4 linked regions of the Homo sapiens genome follow. The protein of the gene in region 3 interacts with the protein of the main gene of each other region in a biochemical or structural test. Each region holds a gene or a part of one and is shown on either strand. Other genes may lie near its edges.

Region 1 (7,005 bases), on a different chromosome or scaffold from region 3:
AACTTTAAAGGAAAAAGGAAAAAAATTATTTGAAGGAACAGAAAGACCCAGCATGTTCTTGGCTAGAACAACTAAATCAAAGTACAAATGTTGGTTTATAACAGGGTAATATGTAAATTCAATATGTTTCTAATAGATTACCAACAAGATTTATTTTTATTTTCATTTATTTTATTTTTATTTTATTTTATGTTTTTGAGACAGAGTCTCGCTCTGGTGATCCACTCACCTCTGCCTCCCAAAGTCCTGGGATTATAGGCGTGAGCCACTGCATCTGGCCTGTTTGACTACAGTTTAATTTTATTTTTTTAATTATTATATATATATTTTTTTGAGACAGGGTCTCGCTCCATCATCCAGGCTGGAGTATAATGGCACCATCTCAGCTCACTGTAACCTCTGCCTCCCAGGTTCAAGCAATTCTCCTGCTTCAGCCTCCCAAGCAGCTGGGATTATAGGCACACGCCACCAGGTCCAGCTAATTTTTGTATTCTTAGTAGAGATGGGGTTTCACCATGTTGGCCAGGCTGGTCTTGAACTCCTGACCAAGTGATCTGCCTGCCTTGGCCTCTCAAAGTACTGAGACTACAGGTGTAAGCCACCATGCCCTGCCAACAAGATTTTTTTCTTTAGAGCTAGACAAGTTGACTCTTAAATTTGTATGGGTGAGGCCGGGTGCGGTGGCTGACACCTGTAATCCCAGCACTTTGGGAGGCTGAGGAGGGTGGATCATGAGTTCAGGAGTTTGAGACCAGCCTGGCCAACATGGTGAACCCTCATCTCTACTAAGAATACAAAAATTAGCTGGGTGTGGTGGCATGCGCCTGTAATACCAGCTACTTGGGAGGCTGAGGCATGAGAATCGCTTGAACTCAGGATATGGAGGTTTCAGTGAGCCAAGATCGCACCACTGCACTCCAGCCTGGGTGACAGAGAGGGACTCCAGCTCAAAAAAAAAAAAAAAAGTTTGTATGGGAGAAAAAGCAACAAGGAGAGCCAGGAAAATCTGAAGCAGAAGAGCAGTAAGGAGAATGCGCTGTACGAGATATTGAATCATAAGAGAAAACCTCTATAACTGAAAGAATCTGACCAACAGAACCAAATAGAAAGTTTAGAAAGTTCAGAATCAGACCCAAGTATATGCAGCTATTTGATATATAACATAGGTGGCATGTGAAGACATTAGTGAAAATGGTTTTTCAATAAACAGAGGTGGAAAAACTGAAAGTCACTTGAAAGCGAGTTAAAATTGGATCTATATTTCCCATACACCAGAATAAACTTTAAAGGGATCAGCAATCTAAATATAAAAAATAAAACTGTGCAAATACTAGAAGAAAACATTAGTGAACTCTATAATCTAGAGATTATTCTTTTTTTTAAAAAAAAAGAGATTGCTCCTTGTGAATAGAGAAAGTTTTTCTAACTACGACTCAGAAACAATAAAGGAAAAATCATTAAAGTTGACTACATTAAAAGAGTGTATGCCAAAATCACCAGAAGCAATGTCAGAAAACAGATGACAAGCTGGGGGAAATATTCGCAATTTATATCACTTAAGACTAATTAAGCCACAACTAGGGAGGGGCGTGTGGTTTGCTCCTGGCATCCACTTGGTGAATCTCCTCCAGAGATTCTGTGAAACATGTGTGATGGCAGGACAGCCCCCACAACCACAAGTTATCGGGTTCATGCGGTCAACAGTGTCGCAGTTGAGAAACTCTGCCTTAGGGTAAGCACAGAGGGAGTAAAACAGCTTGAGTTCTCAAAATTGAACTCATGTAAAACACCTGGCTAGTATCTTCCCTACTTCCATTTATGCTAGATGTTTCTGTTTTCCAAGACTGCTCTGTCTGAGATGGCAGATGGAGTTTTCATACTTACTTGGCTAACCTGTCAGTACCCTGGGGTCTAATTCCTATGCCTGGAGAGAACTGGAAGTCCTTGAACACACGGCTCAATGATGTGGGCTCTGCTCATTTATATACATTTATTTTTAAATTTAATATATATTTTAGTTTTTTTATTTCCATAGTTTTTTGGAGAACACGTGGTATTTGGTTACATGGCAAGCTTTTTTTTTTTTTTCCTGAGATGGGGTCTTGCTCTGTTGCCCAGGCTGGGGTGCAGTGGCATGATCTCAGCTCACTGCAACCAACCTCCGCCTGCTAGATTCAAGCAATTCTCCTGCCTCAGCCTCCTCAGTAGCTGGCACTACAGATGTGTGCCACCATGCCTAATTTTTTTATATTTTTAGTAGAGACGGGGGTTTCACCATGCTGGCCAGGCTGGTCTCGAACTCCTGACCTCATGATCTGCCTGCCTTGGCCTCCCAAAGTGCTGAGATTACGGGCATGAGCCACTGCGCCCTGCCAAGTAAGTTCTTTAGTGGTGATTTGTGAGATTCTGGTGCATCTATCACCTTAGCAGTATACACTGAACTCAAATTTGTAGCCTTTTATCCCTCACTCCCTTCCCACCCTTTTCCCCCAAGTCCCCAAAGTCCATTGTATCATTCTTATGCCTTTGTATCCTCATAGTTTAGGTCCTACTTATGAGTGAGAACATACAATGTTTGGTTTTCCATTCCTGAGTTACTTCACTTAGAACAACAGTCTCCAATCCCATCCAGGTTGCCAATGCCATTAATTCATTCCTTTTTATGGCTGAGTAGCATTCCACCGTATACGCATACCACAGTTTCTTTATCCACTCTTTGATTGATGGGCATTTGGGTTGGTTTCATGTTTTTGCAATTACGAATTGTGCTGCTATTAACATGCGTGTGCAAGTATCTTTTTTGTATAATGACTTATTTTCCTCTGCGTAGATACCCAGTAGTGGGATTGCTGGATCAAATGGTAGTTCTATTTTTAGTTATTTAAGGAATCGCCATACTATTTTCCACAGTGGTTGTACTATCCATCAGCAGTGTAGAGGTGTTCCCTCTTCACCAAATCCACGCCAACATCTATTATTTTTTGAGTTTTTGATTTTTTGATTAAGGCCACTCTTGCGGGAGTAAGGTGGTATCACATTGTGGTTTTGATTTGCATTTCCCTAATCATTAGTGATGTTGAGCATTTTTTCTTGTTTGTTGGCCATTTGCATATCCTCTTTTGAGAACTGTCTATTCATGCCAGCCCACTTTTTGATGGGATTTTTTTTTCTTGCTAATTTGTTTGAGTTTCTTGTAGATTCTGGATATTACTGCTTTGTCGGATGTATAGATTGTGAAGATTTTCTCCCACTCTGTAGGTTGTCTGTTTACTCTGCTTGACTATTCCTTTTGCTTTGCAAAAGCTATTTAGTCTACTTTTTTTTTTTTTTTTTTTTTTTTTTTTTTTGAGACGGACCAGACTGGAGTGCGGTGGCGCCATCTCGGCTCACTGCAGCCTCTGCCTCCCGGGTTCAAGTGATTCTCCTGCCTCAGCTTCCCCAGCAACTGAGATTACAGGCACGCGCCATTACACTCGGCTAATTTTTGTATTTTTAGTAGAGACGGGGTTTTGCCATGTTGGCCAGGCTGGTCTGGAACTCCTGACCTCCAGTGATCCGCCTGCCTCGGCCTCCCAGTGTTGGGATTACTGGCGTGAGCCCCGCGCCCGCCCCTGGCTGGCTTCTTTGCCGCAAGCTGTTTCATCAGCAAAGTCTTTGTGACCTGTATCTAGTCTGCTCATTTTTAAATGCGTGTTCTGCACTCCCCAGTGGATGGCCGTGTATCAGGAGCCGGCCCTTTTCTGGAAACAGGCCAGCATTCAGTCTCCACAGAGGCACCATAAACACGCTGGTGGGGCCCTGTACTGTGGTCAAAGTCAAGGCCTCCGGGCAGGACTCGCGGCCCCTCCGGCTGGCGGGTGGGGTTGACCCGCACGTCCCGCCCCGCCTCTCCCTTCGCGCTCCGGACGGGCGACGGTAGCTCGAGACCCGGGACTCCGCCCGCCTCCCCGCGAGTATTTGAGGTCCGGGGCGGCTCCGGCGCCTCTGCCCGCCGTTCTGCTCGCTCGCTCCCCGCTCTGGAGTACGTGTCTGGCTTGGGAGCCGCTCGGACACGCTGGCTTGGGTTTGTCGCTCCAAAGTCGGGAAAGCCGGGGGCGCGAGCGGGGAGGGGGGCAGGGTGGGGGTCGCGCGGGGCCGGGAACGCGCGTGGGTCGACGGCGCGCGGGGACGCTGGAGCCCCGAGAATGGGGCGTGGCCGCGCGGGGCTGTGACCCCAGCAGTCCCAGCGGGGCGGGGGCCCGGGCGAGCGTCCGGCTTGGGTTCCCTTCCGGAGCCTCGCAGCGGCAGAGAACGGCGACGCGGCCGGGTGAGTCGTGCGTGGCCGCGAGCCCGGCCGGTGACGCCGCGGACCCGAGGACCCCGGGCGCCCAGGCCCAGCGCCCACGGAAGAGGCGGCCGGCGCGGGATGGGGGCGGCGCAGAGCCTCCCGGGCCACAGGTGACCCCGGTCGGCCCCGCGGCCTCGGTGACCCCTCGCCCGCTCCGCGACCCGGAGGACGCGTGCTCAGTCTTGGGGCGCCGGGTGTTAGGAGCCGGGCGGGAGGCGGAGAGAGGCCGAGGGGTTCGGCGCCAAACGGTGCCATCCGGGCCCCCTGCGTGTGTTCACTGGACTGGCCGTGCTGGGCTTGGCCAATCCGCAGCACTTTCAGGTCGCCCAGACCTGTGGAGACGATCGTGTGGACCAGCCCGGATCTCCTTACCGCTCTGTGTTTGAATTAAACTCCCTACAGGCAAACTATTACAGGCTTTGATGTCTTCAAGGCAAAGAGGAAACTTTAACTACAAATTGGCATTTAAGTTATTTTCTTCCTTTTTTTTTTTTTTTTTTTTGTCCTAAAGATTGGCTTCGGAAAACTGAGGTACAGAAAATTAATAATTAATGTTCACATGCTGTCAGGAATACTCAGATGCGAGGGGGCATCTGAGTCCATTTTTTGGGCACTTTTGCTTTCTGGGATGCTCTCGTGCCTAATGACAGCCCTGCAGCTGCCTGCATCCTTTCTGGTGGGGGTCAGGCCTGATGCGATGAGATCTGATGTGTTCAGTGACCTTCTAGTTAAGGTCCTGGGCCGGCCTTGTATTGCTGGGGCTTTTATGTGTGCTGGGATTAACACCAGTGACTGCTGTTATCAGCATAGATGGCGTTTGTTCTCATTTCAGGACCGTATCTGAGTAATTGCATCCATTGTGATGTGCCACCAAAGAGAAAAGTACTTTGGTCATACTCGACTATGTAAACTAAGTATTTTAAGTTAAGGCCAATTCCAATGCATTTTATTACAATTCAGCATGAAACAGTTAACACGGACCAGTAACAGTAGAGTGAAATTAGCATGAATAGAACCAACATTCTTTTCCACATATGTAATAATAAGGGCACCCAAGCAGATGTTGTACGGTCCCAGGGAAGACCACACACCTTACATTTCCAGGCTTACTGCACTTGGGATTAAGCCAAGGCATCCAAAGAAAGAAAATTTTTTTTTTTTTTTTTTTTGCCAGGCTGGAGTGCAGTGGTGCGATTTCGGCTGACTGCAACCTCCACCTCCCGGGCTCCATACCTGGCTAATTTTTGTATTTTTAGTAGCAATGGGGTTTCACCATGCTGGCCAGGCTGGTCTCAAACTCCTGACCTCGTGATCTGCCCGCCTTGGCCTCCCAAAGTGCTGGGATTACAGATGTGAGCCACTGCGCCTAGCCTGAAAATAATGTTTAACTCCCATTTATATGTTAGGCTGCTCAGATATATTAAACACATACACACACAACACACACACACACACACATACACACTGCACAAGGAAACAGAGGGACAAAGCAGGAAGTCCAAGTTTCCATTAAACCAGTCTTTAAATGGTTAAATTTAGTAGGAAATAAAGGCATCCTTAATAGAAGTTGAGAAGCACAATTCAATAGTGACACCTAAAAAAAAATTAAGACTTGATTAGTTGAATAAAATCAATTGTGAACATTGCTCAGTTACTGGTGATGCTACAGGAAAAAAAAAGTGATGCCAGGATAGATTTGTTAGGCTTGTTTAAAAAATACATAAAATTGTTCATTAATAAGACTTTAATATCCAGTTTTTATGTCTGTGATTAAATATCATTTTTTATTTTTAAATGGTATAGTTTTTAAATTTTGAAACAATTAATTTTGCATAAATATTTGTCTATGTACATATATACATGTGTATTCACATATATATATGAAGGACACTTAGCTATCTTATTTACTGAAGCTAAAGAAGTAGGTCCTTAAAAAGCCATTGACAGGTCTTGAGTTTGCAACGTGACTGTGAAACAGGCATCCTTGTTACTCACACGTTTGCTGAAAGGATAACAGAAAGCCCTCGATAGAAAAATCTCACTAGATTGTTTATAATTTGTTGATATTTGGAGTATCTTGAGTGGTAAACTTTAAATGTGGATTTATTTTTTCTTTCCTTTTAGGATTTGGATCTCTCCAATCTTTTTTATGATTAATTGTTCAGTGTTTATGCATTATTGCGAAGTGATAATGAAAATGCTCAAACTCAGGGTCCTGCAGGCACTGTGGGGGAGGCAGTGGGGACGTGAGGGGATTACAGATCCAGTAGAAGCCCCCCGACCCCCATCTGCTTCCACCCCATCTCCTTCCAGAACACCACCGATAGCCACACCGAAGAGTTCTCCCATTTGCTGGTTCCCGGACAAAAAAGCTGCTGATCCCTTGAGCACACTGCAGTGAAGCTCCCAGCTGACATGTCCTGTCCATGTAAACAGAACTTCCTCCATGTAAACAGAACTTCCAGCATTGTTTGTGTTTTCCTCTTAACTATGTACTGACATCCAAGGGTTGTTAGGAATGTTTGGAAAGTCTAGGTACAAAAGAGAGACCTAAATAAAATAAAGCAAACACCAGCCACCATAACAAAAGGACCCCAGAGATAGGCAGCGCAGGGAACGGAAGACTCAATAAACTATAATTGTGGTATCCAAAGAATTAGTATAGAAGGCAAAATGGA
Region 2 (7,900 bases), on a different chromosome or scaffold from region 3:
AGAGAAAGAAATAAAGGGTATTCAATTAGGAAAAAAGGAAGTCAAGTCTCTATTTGCAGATGACATGATTGTATATTTAGAAATCCCCATTGTCTCAGCCCAAAATCTCCTTAAGCCAATAAGCAACTTCATCAAAATCTTAGGATACAAAATCAATGTGCAAAAATCACACGCATTCCTATACAACAATAACAGACAAACAGAGAGCCAAATCATGAGTGAGCTCCCATTCACAATTGCTACAAAGAGAATAAAATACCTAGGAATCCAACTTACAAGGGATGTGAAGGACCTCTTCAAGGAGAACTACAAACCACTACTCAACGAAATAAAAGAGGACACAAACAAATGGAAGAACATTCCATGCTCATGGATAATAAGAATCAATATCATGAAAATGGCCATACTGCCCAAAGTAATTTATAGATGCAATGCTATCTCCATCAAGCTACCACTGACTTTCTTCACAGAATTGGAAAAAACTACTTTAAATTTCATATGGAACCAAAAAAGAGCCTGCATAGCCAAGACAATCCTAAGCCAAAAGAACCAAGCTGGAGGTATAACACTACCTGACTTCAAACTATATTACAAGGCTTCAGTAACCAAAACAGTATGGTACTGGTACCAAAACAGATATATAGAACAATGGAACAGAACAGAGGCCTCAGAAATAACACCACACATCTACAACCATCTGATCTTTGACAAACCTGACAAAAACAAGAAATGGGAAAAGGATTCCCTATTTAATAAATGGTGCTGGGAAAACTGGCTAGCCATATGTAGAAAGCTGAAGCTGGATCCCTTCCTTACACCTTATACAAAAATTAACTCAAGATGGATTAAAGACTTAAATGTAAGACCTAAAACCATAAAAACCCTAGAAGAAAACTTAGGCAATACCATTCAGGACATAGGCATAGGCAAAGACTTCATGACTAAAACACCAAAAGCAATGGCAACAAAAGCCAAAATTGACAAATGGGATCTAATTAAACTAAAGAGCTTCTGCACAGCAAAAGAAACTATCATCAGAGTGAACAGGTAACCTACAGAATGGGAGAAAATTTTTGCAATCTATCCATCTGACAAAGGGCTAATATCCAGAATCTACAAGGAACTTAAGCAAATTTACAAGAAAAAAACAAACAATCCCATCAAAAAGTGGGCGAAGGAGATGAACAGACACTTCTCAAATGAAGACATTTATGAAGCCAACAGACATATGAAAAAATGCTCATCATCACTGGTCCTTAGAGAAATGCAAATCAAAACCACAATGAGATACCATCTCATACCAGTTAGAATGGGGATCATTAAAAAGTCAGGAAACAACAGATGCTGGAGAGTATGCAGAGAAATAGAAATGCTTTTACACTGTTGGTGGGTCTGTAAATTAGTTCAACCTTTGTGGAAGACAGTGTGGCAATTCCTCAAGGATGTAGAACTAGAAATACAATTTGACCCAGCAATCCCATTACTGGATATATACCCAAAGGATTATACATCATGCTACTATAAAGACACATGCACACATATGTTTATTGTGGCACCATTCACAATAGCAAAGACTTGGAACCAACCCAAATGTCCACCAATAATAGACTGGATAAAGAAAATATGGCACATATACACCATGGAATACTATGCAGCCATAAAAAAGGATGAGTTCATGTCCTTTTCAGGGACATGGATGAAGCTGGAAACCATCATTCTCAGCAAACTAATACAGGAACAGGAAACCAAACACCACATGTTCTCACTCATAAGTGGGAGCTGAACAACGAAAACATATGGACACAGGGAGGGGACTATCACACATTGGGGCCTGTTGGGGGGTTGGGGGCTGGCAGAGGGATAGCATTAGGAGAAATACCTAATGTAAATGACAAGTTGATGGGTGCAGCAAACCAATATGGCACATGTATACCTATGTAAAAAACCTGCACGTTGTGCACATGTACCCCACAACTTAAAGTATAATTTAAGAAAAGAAAGAAAGAAGGAAAATGATGCTCTGAGGCCGGAGAACTTGAGAACACTCAGATAATGCTCTGAGGCAAGATGACTAGTCATCCCCAATGTCCACTCTCTTTGTCTCTCTCATGGTAATGGAACTCTGAATTTTTAGCTGGGAGGTGGCTACCTAGAATCTTGACTGCACTGCACAGCCTCCTTTGTAGCTAGGTATGGCCATGGGACAAAACTCCAGGCAACACAACACAAGTGGGAATGACAGGCAATGTTCAAGGCATTCCTTTCAAAAGAAAGGGTGTGCCCTTCCCTTCCCCTGTGGCCCTTTCTATGGACTGGAAGGTGGACATAGCAGTGAGCCATCTTAGCCTAGACAAACAGACGTGGAGGGGCAGCTGAGCAACCAGACAGGAGGACGTGGTTTCTGACAACGTGGAGGCACCATATCAACCCACTGCCTCCAGCTGGACCTGCAGGAGAGGGAAATGAACTTCAGTCTCATTTTAGCAACTATTTCTTTAGGATTCTGTGTAACTTAAACATATGTATTGGCCAGGTACAGTGGCTCACACCTGTAATTCCAGCACTTTGGGAGGCTGAGGTGGGAGGATCCCTTGAGGCCAGGATTTCAAGACTAGCCTGGACAACACAATGAAACCCTGCCTCTACAAAAAAATAAAAATTTAAAAATTAGCCAGGCATGGCGTTGTGCACCTATGGTTCCAGCTACTCAGAAGGCTGAGGCGGCAGGATATCTTGAGTCGAGGCGGCAGGATATCTTGAGTCCAGGAGTCAGAGTCTTCAGTAAGCAACGAGCAATGATTGCGCCACTACATTCCAGCCTGGGTGACAAAGCGAGTCTCTCTCTCTCTCTCTCTCTCTCTCTCTCTATATATATATATATATATATATAATATATATATAAAAATATATAATATATTATATATGTGTATACGTATATATGTATATATATACACACACACACATAGAGAGAGATATATATATAAAGACACACACACACACACACACACACACACACACACACACACACACATTCAATTCCAAAACTGGGAGCCTGAAAGTCATTTAAGAAAGATGGGCCCAGACAGTTATTGGTCATCTTAGTGCCTTACAGTCAACAAATATGTAAGTCCTCTAAAGATGCAGCACTATCGCAACAGACAAACAAAAAATCCTGTCCTCGTAGAGTGTACATTTAATATCATTTCATTTCATCTTGATTACCACTCTGTCAGGGAATATTGCCTTGCATCTTAGACATGAGGAAATTAAGCTGTAGAGATTTCCCATGATTTGTTTGAAGTGAGTCAGTTGGTGAGTCAGACATCAGAGATTCAAGCCAGGTCAGCTCATGCCAGAGCTAGAACCTCGCCACTGGTCTGGTGGCCTCCAAAGCATGCCCTCTAGAGAGGCCTGTCAGGGCTACCCCGGATGGGGACTGTGACCATGAGGAATCAAGAGGAAGGATTTTTTTTTTTTTGAGACAGAGTCTCTCTGTGTTGCCCAGGCTGGAGTGCAGTGGCGTGATCTTGGCTCACTGCAACCTCTGCCTCCTGGGTTCAAGCGATTCTCCTGCCTCAGCCTCGCCTCCCAAGTAGCTGGGTTACAGGCATGCGCCATGATGCCCTGCTAGTTTGTTTGTTTTTTTTTTTTTTGTATTTTTAGTAAAGATGGGGTTTCGCCATGTTGGCCAAGCTGGTCATGGACTCCTGACCTCAGGTGGTCTGCCCACGTCAGCCTCCCAAGATGCTGGGATTACCAGCATGAGCCACTAGTCCCGCCCAGGATTTTTTTTTTCCTTTTTCATGAGCCAAAGAAAGACCCCAGACTAGCTAAGAGAGAGGCCCAAGGATACCTGAAGGCCGGGGAGGAGGGACAACCACTTGTTGGGGTGAACCAATCGCAGAGGCTCAGCAGGACAGAGGCCAAGGCTGAGGAGGCCCCCACAGAGAAACAGAGCCTGAGGACAAGGGGTTCCTCACAACACCTGTGCTCCCCGAAAGCTCCCCTCCACACCCCTCTCTAGGTGCCCTACTCTCTGGGGTTGGTGAAGGGGTGCCAAAAATGCAAACTGATCCACAGAAAAATAGAGTCCTGTATTTTAAAAATATATCTAGGTTTGTATATGGACATTCACATCACACAGACACACAGACACACATGCAGCCACACACACACACACACACAGAGACACCAAAGAAAAGTGCTTTAGAAATACACCAAAATGTGGCTGGGTGCGGTGGCTCATGCCTGTAATCCCAGCACTTTGGGAGGCTGAGGTGGGCAGATCACGAGGTCAGGAGTTCAAGACCAGTCCGACCAACAAGGTGAAACCCTGTCTCTACGAAAAATACAAAAATTAGCTGGGCGTGGTGGTGTGTGCCTGTAGTCCCAGCTACTCGGGAGGCTGAGGCAGAAAGTTGCTTGAACCCGGGAGTCAGAGGTTGCAGTGAGCTGAGATCACGCCACTGCACTCCAGCCTGGGCAACAAAGCAAGACTCTGTCTCAAAATAAAAATAAAAAATAAAAAGAAATAAAAAAGAAATATACCAAAATGTTAGCTGGGGTCTTCTCTGGGTAGTAAAGTGCTGGGGGATATTTTCCAAAGTCCTTCTTTACATTCTCTGAGTTTTTCCATGTTCTTCAATGAGTATTTAATAAGCAGATAAAAACTAATACAACAAAGGATTTTTTCTGTGTGCTTTTTTGACCTTTGGAGGAAGAGATTAGAGCTAGTCCCATAACCAGGTTATTTGAGTAGGTCTAACAAGCCCGTATTACCAGAAATTATCATCTGGTCATTTCCAGTCCGAGAACAGAACACTTGGTTGTCCTGGCATTTCCCAAGCAGGGGGAGGAGTTCTCTGCAGGAATAAATAAGCCTCAGCATTCATGAAAATCCACTACTCCAGACAGACGGCTTTGGAATCCACCAGCTACATCCAGCTCCCTGAGGCAGGTAATCCATGATGTTTTACATCCTGGGAGCGGAGGAATCTGTTTTTCCAGGAGAGTTTTAGGCAGCAGCCTGGAGTGTGTGGAGTGTGAGGGGTAAGCAGAGGCCAGGAGGAGGTGTACTCAGGTGTTAGGGGCCAGGGGTCTGTTCTTGGCTGCCACTGATTCCCTGTGCCTTTTTTAGAGGCATCCTCTGTGTCTGGGTTTTCACACCTGCAAAGGGTGGAGGTGCCCTGGGGCCTCTATGGTCATTTCTGCCTTGATACTTACAGATTCGGATTTGAGTCAGCTGTGCATCTGACCCTCAGGGAAGAGGTGCTGTCCCCTTGCCTGGAGCAGGGTGCAGCTCTCAGAACATGTGGCAGATGTGATTATTGCAGCAGGTCCCTCTGAGCAGAGGCCACAGGCCTCACCATGATTTCAGGGTCTCCATGGGGCTGCCTCGGGAGCTCCACTTCCCCAAAAGGACCCCTGGCCAAGTCGACAGATGGGCTGTGTCTCTGTCCAGCAACAGAAAAGACAAACTGCTGGGAAACAGCCAGCCCTCCAACTTGCCCAAACAGAAAAGACAAGCCTTTGCCCCTGAAATAATTCTGGAGAAAAATATTGTCTAACATTTATCCAGAGAAATGATTGCATCAGCCTGAGAGTGAACAGTTGAAGCAAACAAGGTGCCTCTGTCCCTGGGCTTGGCCAAAGGCATTTCCACTGGCCTCCCCTCCTTCCCCTCCTTCCCCTCCTTCCCCTCCTTCCCTTCCTTTCCTTCCTTCCCTTCCTTCCACTCTCTCTTCCCCTTTTCTTCTCCTCTCTCTACCCCTCTCCCCTCCCCTCCCTTCCAATCGCCTCTCTTCCCCACTCTTCTCCCCAGCACCCAAGCTGCCCCTTTTCTCTTCTGAATTCTAGGACTGAGTGGGCGGAGGCTGAAGGTGAATAATCTTGTTTGCTGCGGTCACCGGCTTGGAACTCAGCCCTTCCAGGGTCTCTTGTGCAGTAGCTCATGGCTCTTCTCTGGCTTGTAGTTTCAGGAAAGGGGTAGTATGGGAGGTGGTGACTGCTCGGTACGTCTAATATGAACCAGGTGCCTTCATCATTTATCTCACCTGAGCCACTTAACAGGTTGTGCAGAGACGGAAACAGGTTGAGAGATGTACAGTCACCTGCTTGCCAGTACACAGCAATCAAAAGTGGCCAAAATAAAATCCCAGTCCAAGTCTGGGAGACTCCAAAGCCCTCTCTGCCTTCTCCCCACTAAGAGGCCCTTCCAGGCTTATGGTGGACACAGACACCACGTGGCAACCTGGCAGGGGCAGAGAAGAACATTTGCCTTTCTTTGGTCTTGCTGCCAACCATTATCAGGGCCATCGAGGCTCCAGACACTGTACCAGGGACTTTCATTTCCCTCTCTCAGTCGACCCTCACTGCCACCCAGCATCACATCGTGGAGGCCTGTGGAGGCCACACCACGTGACATCTAGAGGCTGGGAGAGTCACTGTGGCCTCTATCTCTGCCCAGGGCTCCTTCATCCCTGGGTTCTACTTTGGTGGCAGTTGGGAGAATGAAGGAAGGGAGCCCCTGCTTTCTAATCCCCTAGGATGAGATCTGCTCACCAAGCAGGAGAGGAGCAGGCATTCTGATTGGACTGAACCTCGGACCCCCCATCAGCTTACAGACCGAGGAGCCAGGCAAACCTGGCTGCCCACTGGGCTCCTTTACCTGTTTGCTGTATGATCTTGGGCAAGCCCCCTCACCGCTCTGTGCCCGGCTTTTCCACTGCAAGAAAATGGCAACAATTATGGTACCTACCTCAAAGGGTGAAATGAAGCAGAGTGATGTGTGTCGGGTGCCCCAGAGAGCACCTACCTGAGGGAGGCTCCAAAGCTAGCAAGAGGCAGCAGGACAGGGACCAGGACGCAGGCTGGGTGGAGGGCAGTGGGAGGTGGTCGGGGCTCCATCTGGCCCTCTGAGACTTAAAGGAGCTTTGCTTTTCAGAGTTGAGAATGGAGAGAATGTTACCTCTCCTGGCTCTGGGGCTCTTGGCGGCTGGGTTCTGCCCTGCTGTCCTCTGCCACCCTAACAGCCCACTTGACGAGGAGAATCTGACCCAGGAGAACCAAGACCGAGGGACACACGTGGACCTCGGATTAGCCTCCGCCAACGTGGACTTCGCTTTCAGCCTGTACAAGCAGTTAGTCCTGAAGGCCCCTGATAAGAATGTCATCTTCTCCCCACTGAGCATCTCCACCGCCTTGGCCTTCCTGTCTCTGGGGGCCCATAATACCACCCTGACAGAGATTCTCAAAGGCCTCAAGTTCAACCTCACGGAGACTTCTGAGGCAGAAATTCACCAGAGCTTCCAGCACCTCCTGCGCACCCTCAATCAGTCCAGCGATGAGCTGCAGCTGAGTATGGGAAATGCCATGTTTGTCAAAGAGCAACTCAGTCTGCTGGACAGGTTCACGGAGGATGCCAAGAGGCTGTATGGCTCCGAGGCCTTTGCCACTGACTTTCAGGACTCAGCTGCAGCTAAGAAGCTCATCAACGACTACGTGAAGAATGGAACTAGGGGGAAAATCACAGATCTGATCAAGGACCTTGACTCGCAGACAATGATGGTCCTGGTGAATTACATCTTCTTTAAAGGTGAGTGTGCCTGGCTTGGGGTTCAGAAGAGGTGGATCTCAGGGCCATTTCTGTCCTGACTCAACAATGGTGTTATTAGGCAAACCACTGTAGAGGAGAGTGCCCACAGCATGGGGGCAGCATAAGCATCAAGGCCCCACCCTGCCCATAGGCATCGCCGTCTCCTGTGGGGTTTTTCCAAATTACAGTTTGTCCTTGGAAGACATAATTCAGTGGAGCCCATCAGCCTCTGGTCTGAGTCAGTGTGGTGCTTTTCACTCTGATTTAAACTTGTCCGGCAAACAGAAAGAAGGAGCTCTCCTTTCA
Region 3 (7,496 bases):
GTGGATGCATGAGGAGAGAGAAAATGGGGAAAGGTAGATGGGGCAGGGGAGGATAAGGGAGACTCCAAAGGGAAGAAAAAGAAACAGTGAGAAAAGCACAGGGGTCGGGGAGATATAGTCGTGGTGAAATACAGACAGTGAGTTAGAAAACAGGAGTGTGATCATGTGAGAGGCAGAGACAGAAACTGAAAGAAACGAAGTGGAAAAGAGAGAGCATAAAATGGCAGAGGAATGACAAAAACAGAAGGGAGAACAGTGAGAATTAGGATGAGCAAAGAAGAGACAGAGACAGCAAGAAATAGACATGGGGAAGAGGAAGGGAGAAAGAACAGAACCAGGAAGGGAGTGAGAAATAGACAAATGAGAAAAGGATGCGGGAAGTCAGAGAGAGAAGGAGAAACAGCAGAGAGGAAGCCAGGGGTGATACAGTGTGGGAGAGAAAAAGGAGGGAGGCCACGGGGGCATCTGAGGAGTGTGGAGTAGCAGGGGGAGGAGGAGAGGCATGAGGGTGGCTCACCTGCAGCTGGGGCTGGAGTGAGGGCTCTGTAGTGGCGGGTGGCCCGGCCCACAGCTCAGGGCCACGTCCCCCTTTCTCTCTCCAGCTCCCTTCCCCTCCTTTCGATTTTTTTTGTTGTTTGTTTGTTTGTTTGTTTTTTCTGAGATGGAGTCTTGCTCTGTCACCCAGGCTGGAGTGCAGTGGCACGATCTCGGCTCACTGCAACCTCTCCCTCCCGGGTTCAAGCGATTCTCCTGCCTCAGCCTCCCTAGTAATTGGGATTACAGGCGCGCAGCACCACGCCTGGCTACTTTTTGTATTTTTAGTAGAGACGGGGTTTTGCCATGTTGGCCAGGCTGGTTTCAAACTCCTGACCTCAGATGATCCACCCACCTCGGCCTCCCAAAGTGCTGGGATTACAGGCGTGGGCCACCGTGCCCGGCCACCTTCCCCTCCTTTCTTGTTTCCCCTTCTCCTTCCTCCCTCCTCAATTGTGCACCCAGCTACAGCTGAAACCAGCCCTCCCTGTGTCTCCCCAGGGTGGAGGGATGTCCTGCAGAGAGTGCTGTGCAATGACAGGCACCCCCTCACATGCACACACATTGAGCTTAAAGTCCTTCCTTTTTCTGGGTGCTCCCCACCCACCCTCACGGGGTGTGTTCAGTAGTGATGAGGAAGGGCTGAGGCAGAGACCCAGAGAGAAAGACAGGCAAAGAGATGCAGGGTGAGACACACGGTGACAGAGATGGCCACAGAGAGACCCAGAGACAGAGACGGGGGAGACACAGACACAGGGAGACAGAAAAGAGAGAGGGACATAGAGACCAAAACACAGTCATACAGACACAACCAGAGCCAGATACCAAGAGACACAGCGAGATCAGACACAGAGAGAAACCCAGGCAGCCATGGGGAGAGTGGTCCAGCCCCAGCTCTGCCTCCGGGTGCGACCTGGGCCAGGACCTTCCCTCTCTCCTTTAGTCTGAAGCCTCACCTGAGAAGTGACCCTGGGGGAAGCATCCCGCTGTTATTCCTGTGGGACACAGCCATTCCCTCCCCAGATCCCAGGGTCCTACTTACTTCTTTAGGCAATGGGCAGCTGTGAGCACCCACTGGGGGTGCACCAGGACACCCCCACAGTGTGCCCATCCATGACTGTACACAGCCACCTGCCAGGGTTGGGAATGCTTCTCACACTCCCAGCCTCCCACAATCCGAGACTGGATGAGGGGCACGGCACCTGCGGAGGGGGTGCTGGGTCAGGGGGATCAGACCCAAAAGAATTGGATAGGGGAGGGAGCTGAGCTGTGGGTTTGAAGAGACATGGGGGCAGAGGACCAGGACTGGGAGTCCAGGACACAAGCAAGGGGTCCTGGGAGGGCTGGCAATTCTGTAGCTATTCCCTGCGTTAGCGGGTTGGTGGCTGGACCAGGTCGGGAGGCTTCATGCTCTGAGAACGGAGCTGACCCCAGAGATCAGAGTAGGGGACATGGGAAACATCTGAAGCAGGCATCGGGTTGGGGGTTGGGTCATTTGGAGTGATTTGGGGTCTTACACTGGGAGAAGGGACACTGTGGTGGCAGCTGTGGGTTCTAAGAGAATAAGAGGTTCCAGAAACCAAGGATAAGTGCCCAGTGGAGAGGTTTAGTTGCTGGGAGAGGAAGGTTTTGGATGGTTTACCATGTCCAAGGTTAAGCAAACAGTTCTGCCTGAGTTGTTTCTTGCTTTGTTTTGTTTTGTTTTGTTTTTGAGGTTTTGAAAAGGGTGCGGATTTAGGGAATCAGAGAACTGGCCGTTGTGGTTGGGGGTGCTCGTGTTTTTCCCATGGAAAAAGCTAGCCATTGAATGACGGGTCTGGGGCAAAGAGTCAGGGAAGGAGGAGTTCTGAAAGTCCCAGTGCCAGACTCAGGGTGGGAGGCAGCATTTGTTGTCTCAGGCCAGATAGCCTCGGGGGGAAGAAGGAAGTGTCTGGTGGAATCTGGGTTTCCTGGGACAGGGTTGGGGAGCCAGGTGTCAAGGTCCAGGGGACAGGGTTGAATGCTCACAGCTGAATAGGAAAAGTCAGTAGACTGTGGTAGGACTGAGGGGCTCAGGAGGCAGCCCAGTGATAGGGTCCAAGGAACCAGTGGCATGGAGAGAGGTCCTTGAAAGGTTTTGAACCCCATAAAGAGAAACACAGAGATGCCCAGGAACTTGCTCTTTAGTAAAGCAGCTGGGAGCAGGGATTTGGCTGGGCAATGGAGAGAAAGGTCTGAGGTAAGTGGGAGGGAGCGGGGACCTAGTGTGGGCATGAGGACTATTGCAATGTGGAAGAGTCAGGGGCACATTGTCTGGGCTGAACTGTGGGCTGAAGGGACGAGGCTGGGGCACTGGGTGGGAGGAAAAGGGCTTCAGCATAAGAGTCAGAACCCGCCCCCCTTCCTTTATCCCCCCAATCTCACCAGTGCACCCCACAGACAAGGCGATGGAGAGAACCAGGTCCCACATGCTGACACAGGTGTCCACGGCCAGGTGGTGAGTTTGGGGCTGGGGGGCCTCCCTGAGGAGCCCTATAAAGCCTTCATTCTCCAGGACCCCGCCCTTGCCCTGTTGGCACCTAGATGCTGACCAAGGCCCTCCCCATGCTGCTGGAGGCTGGACAACCCCCTCCCACACCCAGAGCTGTGGAAGGGGAGGGAGAGCCAGCACTTGCTGTTCCACACATACTAGATCAGTCTGGAGGCATTCCCACGGTGTGAGGTCAGATTGGGCAGGGCCTATGGATCATGGAGATGTGATCTAGGGAACAAAGCCAGAGAAGGCAGGCTCAGGATGAACAGCAACAGGGGTTGGGATGATCACTGATTCTTTTTTAAAAAAATTCTGAGACAGTCTCACTCTGTTTCCCAGGCTGGAGTGCAGCGGCGTGATCGCAGCTCCCTGTAGCCTTGAACTCCCAGACTCAACCGATTCTCCTGTCTCAGCCTCCAGGATAGCTGAGACCACAAGCATGCACCACCACATCCAGCTAATTTTTAATTTTTTTGTAGAGAGAGGGTCTGGCTATGTTGCCTAGGCTGGTCTCCAACTCCTGGGCTCAAGCCATCCTCCCACTTCGGTCTCCCAAAGTGATGAGATTACAGGCGTGAGCCACCACGGCCAGCCCCAATCATTGATTTTCAATACAAAGTCTCATGTGCCTAAGTCCCAAGTACTTCCTTTGCACCCCAAACCTAATATGCCCTGAAATATCAGAATGATCGGATTGTGAGACTTCCTGGTCCCTATACCCGTCTGAGCCCAGAAGCTGGACCTCCAACTTACCATGTTCCTGAAATAGAAGCGTTGGCATTCAGTACTCTCTGATTCTTGCACTTCCACACTCAGAAAATGGTTCCCCACATACATTTCTCCCTCATCATAAAACCTTGTGATACCACATATTGTCCAATCCAGAAATATGACTCTCCCAGACCAAGTTCCCTATTATTTCAAAATCCAATGTCCACTAAACAATATGGGGTTCCGGTGGCTCCTCACTCCTCATTCTCCATGCCTGTACAACGTACAGGTACAGCGGGGATTCCTGTTGACCTGCCCTCCTAGGTCAGAATTGTCCTCATGCAAAATCCAATGCCTCCTTCTCACTGAAATGTCTAGCTATCAGGAGCCAGGTTTATACACTCCAAGATTAAGCTGCAAGCCAGGCACGGTGAGTGGCTCATGCCAGCAATCCCAGTGCTTTGGGAGTCCAAGGCTGAAGAATCACTTGAAGTCAGAAGTTCAAGATCAGCCAGGGCAACAAAGTGAGACCCTTTCTCTACAAAAAAAAAAAAAAAATTTAATTAGCCAGGTGTGGTGGCAAGCACCTGTAGCCCCATCTACTCAGGAGGCTGAAGCAGGAGGATCCCTTAAGTCCAGGAGGTCAAGGGTTCAGTGAGCTATGATCACACCACTGCGCTCCAGCCTGAGTGACAGAGCAAAAGACCCAGACTGTGTCTCAAAAAAAAAAAAAAAAAAAAAAAGAATTAGGGTGGCATTGAGAAATCTCATTTTGGTGTCTCAGAAAAGAATCAAGAATAAGAGTCCTGGTGTTAACTCTTATTATAAGAGTCCACTGTTAACTCTATAAGATTTCTTTGATTTTGAAAAAAAAAATGTGATTTCATCTGTTCAATAAAACCAGAGCAGCTTACGCTGATCCAGACCCAGCTGTGTCTCAAGAATTTGACAAAATCTTCCCCCATTTCCAGCTGAATGACCAGATCAATTCCAAGTACAGTGAAGGAGACAGAAGTGGACATAGATAATCACAATTCAAGACCAGGATAGAGGGATATTCACAGCCAGTGGCCTGATTTCCCCCACACAACCACTCGTTCCCTGGAATGACCGTCTGAAAGGAAATTTGCCTCAGCTTGAATGAGAACCACCTGAATCCAGTGTCCCAAGCATATCCTCATCCCCATGATAACCTCAACCAAAACCTGACCCAAACCAATTTAACACAGCCCAATCCAACCACATCACCCACAAGCCCAACCCATCAACCCAACACAACTTAATCTAATTCAAGACAACCCTAATAGCCTCCTTCATTTAAAGATCAAACCAAACTAATGCACATCCTCGCATGCAATAGCCAGCTCCATGTATTCTATCTCCAAAACTAAACCTACTTCATCCCCAATTCAATCCCCACACCCTTCCCAGCCAACATAAAAACAAACCTATTTCCATCCCAAAGCCATGCCATCCCAAACCACCTTTAAATTGCCAATCCCCAAACTCATCCGAAGCAGAATTTTACCCCATCTGTAACTCAACTCCAACCTGACCCTCCATTCTAACTGGTCTTCATACTCCGTTTTCAATGCTATATCCAGCACTTTATCTGGCCAAAGGAGATCAAACACAACCACATCCCACTTCTCGAGCCAGTCCACAGCCTCCTCCCCACCCGTCATGGCCCCCTCTGGGCTCTGACCACACAGGAGTCCGTGCCTTCACCCGCTCTTCCTGCACACACCATGGTGTTCATCAGGGCCCTGGGTAGTCCCTGTTACAAGATGTGGTACAGATGAAGCTGATGCTGGCACAGTGCCTCGTATCTGGGAGACTCACTTGGGAGGACAGTGGAGTGGGGCAAACCCGTAAGTTCAGGCTCCTGTGCCCTCCACCCAGAAGTCCTTGAGATTTCATGGACAGCGACATATGGCCATTCTCTAGCACCTTTCAGTCCTGGTTTCCTGTGGTTCTAGGATCTTTATCGGACACCAGGCCCCGGCCTGGCACCACGCAGGCCACATCCACCAGGGGACGCACGTCCACAGCTCCATGGTTGGGACGTGACGGGAGAGGCGCGCTGCAGGGATAGTCGCAGCTACATGACGTCATGGCGCCGGCCTCGCCCGCATAGTGCAGATGCTGAATGATGAGTGGATGATGCCCCAGGCCTCGGGACATGGCACATGTGCAGATTATACTCGCGCAGGCGCACTCTTGTGGAACTAGAAGAGTAGGTGATTACCCTCAAGTGGAGTAAGGAGTAGATGGAAAGATCAAAGCATGGGCAACTCTCAGTCCTCTGACCCTTTGAGAATCAGGAGATTCCATTACCTTCACACCAAACCCTGGAGCCAATGGTTCCAGTCCTTGCTTCCCAGGGACCCACCAAGGAGTCTCAAGCTAACAAACCCCTGCAACTCAACCCCTCACAATTTCAGCCCCTTCTTCCCGAGGATACGGGATTCTTAGACCTCTCAGGCCATTCCCACGTCAGTACCTCGGAAGCTGGGACCTTACCAGTCTCCTCCCTTGGGGATTTAAGAGTTCAGAACCCACATTCCTCCTCTCCAAGGACATTCACCTCCAGCCTCTTCCTCCTTCGGAACCAAGGAGTATGGGCCCCCTCTGCACTCAAGCCCAGAAGTTCTGATCCCCACCCATGTCCCCTCGAAATTCTGAGCACTCCCTTATTCTGGGGTTGGCAGTGGGGCACTGCCAAACATGGTGGGGAACTGGACCTAGAAATCTTGGTTAGGCACAGTGAAGCCAGATGTGGTAGACACACTAATGATGGGATGTTAAGACTGTCCTGCAGACAAGAGTGGAAGGCTCTGGGTGAACAGTGTTGGGAGACAATTTTCCATGGTTCTCTTATGTTTCTGTGTGTCTTCTGAGCAAAGGCAATAATACCGTTTTCTTTTCTGGACCATCTTTTCAAGCATATTTGTACAGCAGATAGCCTTGCAAGATGGTATCGCCTTCAGATCTAGGTTTGCTTACTGCCTTAGATAATAAAGTTAACGTCTATTTTACAGCAGATTTGTTTACTGTTCAGGACAATAAATACAATATGTTCCTCCAGAGTAGGTCTGCTTTCAACCCAATTATAAAGATAATATCTCCGTCAGATACAAAGACTGGACAAGTTTGCTGGTACCTTCTTATAAGATTGAGGATTTCTAAGCCTAGGTTGCTCACCTTTGCCACAAACCCCTGTGTCCATCCACCTGAACTGCTCTGATCATCCCATATGAATTGGGGGGCAAAGTGAACAAATGTGAACACAAAGTTCATGCTGCCTCCTTAGCTGTGGGTAATAAAATCTTTTGCCTCTGACCCAGGAGTCTCATGAGTTCTACCAGCACAAAACTGGCAGGTTAGCTTATGTGTTTGCAAGTCGGTAAAATGTCAGCTCTTTCAGAGTTCTTTTTTTTTTCTCCCCTGTAGGATACACATTTATAGTTCTCTGCAAAGAGTTAGGTACTGTGGCTACACCTGGCCAGCTGGAGATGGAGCTGGGAAGAGTGGGCAGTAAGACTGAGGAAGGGGAGAGGGCACAGAGAGATTATGATGGGCTCCTGGTATCATAGAGGAAGTCTGAGATAACCTCAAAGTCAAGATCTGAGATAGGGGGTCAAGGAAAGTGCATCCCCCTTTCCGGGGCAGAGACATCCAGCCATAATTTCTCTGCAGACAATGTCTAATCATGGTCCTCTGGAGCCCCTTGCATCCA
Region 4 (2,941 bases), on a different chromosome or scaffold from region 3:
AGGAAGGTGTCAGCCCTGTGCCAAGGTTTCCCCACCTGCTTCCCCCAAATCCTCAGGCACTGACTGTCTCCAGCTGGAGCTGGGTACTCCCGGCAGCCTGCCCCCGGCTGGCGGGCACCAGCTCCTGGCAGAGGGGCTGGTGTGTAATTAGAAGCTCCACAAACTCCCTAATTGCCAGTTCTTCTCCCAAACCAGGAGGCTGGCGCTGTTCTGAGCCGCCCTGTTGCCGGCTGCCTGAGGCATAGAGAGAAGAAGAAGCCAGGAGCAGAGCCAGGCTGGCGTGGAGGTGTCCCGGGGGAGGGCTGGCGAGGTCAGAGGGGACCACGGGGTGGAGGATGCCTGGCGAGCGGCCAGAGGCCAAACGTGGCACTGCGCGGGCTGCCACCCCTGCTGGGCCCAGGGTTCCTCAGCACAGTCCACCCTGCGGCCGCCTCCCTGCCTTCCCCACCATCCTCACTTGTCCCCACCCATGCCCAGAACGGTGACATCAAACCAGCCAGGCCCATTCATTCTTTATTCAGGTGGCATAAAAATCACTACAAAAACCTTACAAAAGAGCCTTAAGGAGCTCATGGGATCCTTCCCTGCCTCGGTTCCTGAGCTCCCGGGCAGAGGAGGGAGACAGGAGAGGAAGGAAGGGAAATGCTGGCAGTGTTGGGATCTCGAGGAGCCGTGGGAAGTCTGGCGTGACAAGGCACAGGGGGTAGGATGGAGGCTGATGGACTCTCGGCAGGTTAGGCCACAGCCAGGCTGTGCCAGACACGAGTTCCACGCGGGGCTGAGGACAACGCTTCGCCTCCCGAGCCACCACCAGGGCCCGTCTCTCCCCACCCTAGCCTAGGTGTCCCGGGACAAGTCCAAAGGCAGCCCTCTCCCCCTCCCTTTTTCTCTGGTAAACAAAAGTCGGGGTGTCCCAGCTGACGTGGGGAGCAGCTAACCTGTCTCCTGGCAGAACTAGAAGCACCTCCCTCCTGCCCAGGCCCCGGTGCAGGACACCCTCTGAGCCTGTTTGGAAGAAAGATGAGGGTCAGGCTCCCGGCTCCCCGATGCCTGCCCTCCTCCCAGCCGCGCCCCCCCCCCACCCTAAACTCCCCAAGAGGTGTTGGGAAAGAATGGCCTCTCTCAGACTGCCCCCGGCCCCTGCCCCAGTGCCACAAAGCCGGTTGGAAAGAGTCACATGAGTGGAGAGGCTGGTCCAGGCAGGGACTCTGGATGCCACAGCCACGGCCCCTCACTTGGGGCTGCCAAACTGGGGGTAATCCTCCTCCATGGGGGGCACAAGTTTTAAGTCAGGGCCGAAAAGCTTGTCTCCGCGGGGGAAGCCTTTCAGGCTCTGGAGGAAGTCCTTGTTGCCCGGGGAATCCTGCTGTTCCTTGAGCTCCCGCGGTGCACTGGGGTTGGGGTTCCTCACGCTGCCCACGAAGAGGGGAAGGCCTGTGGTGTCCTCGAAGATGAAGAAGAGGAAGGGGCGGTTCACGCTGAAGGAGGACAGGGACATGCGGGACATGGCAATGCTGGTGGCCGCCGCCGCCTCCACGCCGACCTCGCTGAGCTCCAGGGTGGACTGATGCTGCACGCCGGACACCACCAGGCTCTGCTCGGAGATCCCACGCAGGTCTGGGGCCTGGAACAACTCCTGCAGGCCTGCCCAGGGCCAGAGATGGCTGGTCAGAGCTGCCCTTGGCCTCACAGGCTCCTGGAGCTGCTTGGGAGGGTGTCTGAGATCCTGGCCAGGGAACAGCTTGAACTCACAGATACCTGCTTCATTCCTATCCGGTTTCCAAGACTCAGCTTAAACACCACCTCCTCCAGGAAGCCTTCCCTGATCCCCAGCTCTAAAGTCCAACCAAGGTACATTTTCAGTGTTCTCCCAGGTGAGCTGGAGAGAAGCCCTCTCTGTCTTATCGCTTATGCTGTAGTAAGTATGTGATTGCTCGTCTGCCCACCCCATTAGACTCAGCTGTTTGTACATGGTGGGCTCCCGGTACCTGGTACAGTGCCTGGAATACAGCAGCTGCTTAGCAAATGGCTGAAGGATAGATGCTTTATTTATTTATTTTAGTTATTATAATTTTTTTTTGAGATGGAGTCTCACTCTGTCATCCAGGCTGGAGTACAGTGGCGTGATCTCGGCTCACTGCAACCTCCTCCTCCCAGGTTCAAGCAATTCTCCTGCCTCAGCCTCCCAAGTAGCTGGGATTATGGGCATGCGCCACCACGCCCGGCTAATTTTTGTATTTTTAGTGGAGACGGGTTTGGCCATGTTGGCCAGGCTGGTCTCAAACTCATGACCTCAGGTGATCCACCCTCTTTGGCCTCCCAAAGTGCTAGGATTACAGACGTGAGCCACCATGCCCGGCCTTTATTTTTATTTTTGAGACAAGGTCTTAGTTCTTTTGCTGAGGCTGGAGTGCAGTGGCACAATTATGGCTCACTGCAGCCTCAGCCACCTGGGGTCAAGAGGGCCTCCCACCTCAACCTCCCCAGTAGCATGCACCACACCTGGCTAATTTTTGTATTTTTTGTAGGGACGGAGTTTCAATGTGTTGCACAGGCTGGTGTCGGACTCCCGGGCTCAAGCAATCCACCCACTTCAGCTTCCCAACGTGCTGGGATTACAGGCATGAGCCACTCCACCCAGCATTTCTTTAACAGTGTGACACCCCAGCTTCTCCTCCTTCCCCTTCCAGGGAAGCCAGCGAGGCTCACATGCCATCCCAGGCTCTCTACCCAGACTCTCCTTGCAATGCGAGGTCTTGGGCAGCAAAGCAGAGCCCCATTCCCCGGGCCACCCCAACTTCCTCTAGGACAGAGGGTCTGGGGGCTCATATTCAACCCTCTCCCCGCTCCCGAAGCCCTGGAAAAGAGCAGGACACAGGACAGCTCTGACTCAGCTCCACTGCCAGCCAGACGCTTCCTCCTTACCCGCCCTGCCCAGCCT

The links.
Region 1: the proteins of KLK2 (region 3) and SERPINB6 form a complex in vitro, tested with the Homo sapiens proteins (one study listed by BioGRID).
Region 2: the proteins of KLK2 (region 3) and SERPINA3 form a complex in vitro, tested with the Homo sapiens proteins (one study listed by BioGRID).
Region 4: the proteins of KLK2 (region 3) and SERPINF2 form a complex in vitro, tested with the Homo sapiens proteins (one study listed by BioGRID).

Annotation. Positions count from the first base shown.
Region 1 is NC_000006.12:2,968,549-2,975,553, reverse strand, and holds the start of SERPINB6 (serpin B6), read left to right. Parts: upstream 1-3,986; 5' UTR 3,987-4,021; exon of another isoform or gene 4,022-4,405; coding exon of another isoform or gene 4,406-4,437; exon of another isoform or gene 4,438-4,749; coding exon of another isoform or gene 4,750-4,796; intron 4,797-4,830; exon of another isoform or gene 4,831-6,742; coding exon of another isoform or gene 6,743-6,775; intron 6,776-7,005.
Region 2 is NC_000014.9:94,607,491-94,615,390, forward strand, and holds the start of SERPINA3 (alpha-1-antichymotrypsin precursor), read left to right. Parts: upstream 1-4,900; 5' UTR 4,901-4,957; exon of another isoform or gene 4,958-5,049; intron 5,050-5,856; exon of another isoform or gene 5,857-5,879; intron 5,880-6,545; exon of another isoform or gene 6,546-6,749; intron 6,750-6,943; 5' UTR 6,944-6,951; coding exon 6,952-7,594; intron 7,595-7,900. UniProt on the Homo sapiens protein: Although its physiological function is unclear, it can inhibit neutrophil cathepsin G and mast cell chymase, both of which can convert angiotensin-1 to the active angiotensin-2.
Region 3 is NC_000019.10:50,868,961-50,876,456, reverse strand, and holds the start of KLK2 (kallikrein-2 isoform 1 preproprotein), read right to left. Parts: upstream 3,019-7,496; 5' UTR 2,984-3,018; coding exon 2,938-2,983; intron 1,737-2,937; coding exon 1,577-1,736; exon of another isoform or gene 1,491-1,576; intron 1-1,490. UniProt on the Homo sapiens protein: Glandular kallikreins cleave Met-Lys and Arg-Ser bonds in kininogen to release Lys-bradykinin.
Region 4 is NC_000017.11:1,752,825-1,755,765, reverse strand, and holds the end of SERPINF2 (alpha-2-antiplasmin isoform a precursor), read right to left. Parts: intron 1,645-2,941; coding exon 1,232-1,644; 3' UTR 501-1,231; downstream 1-500.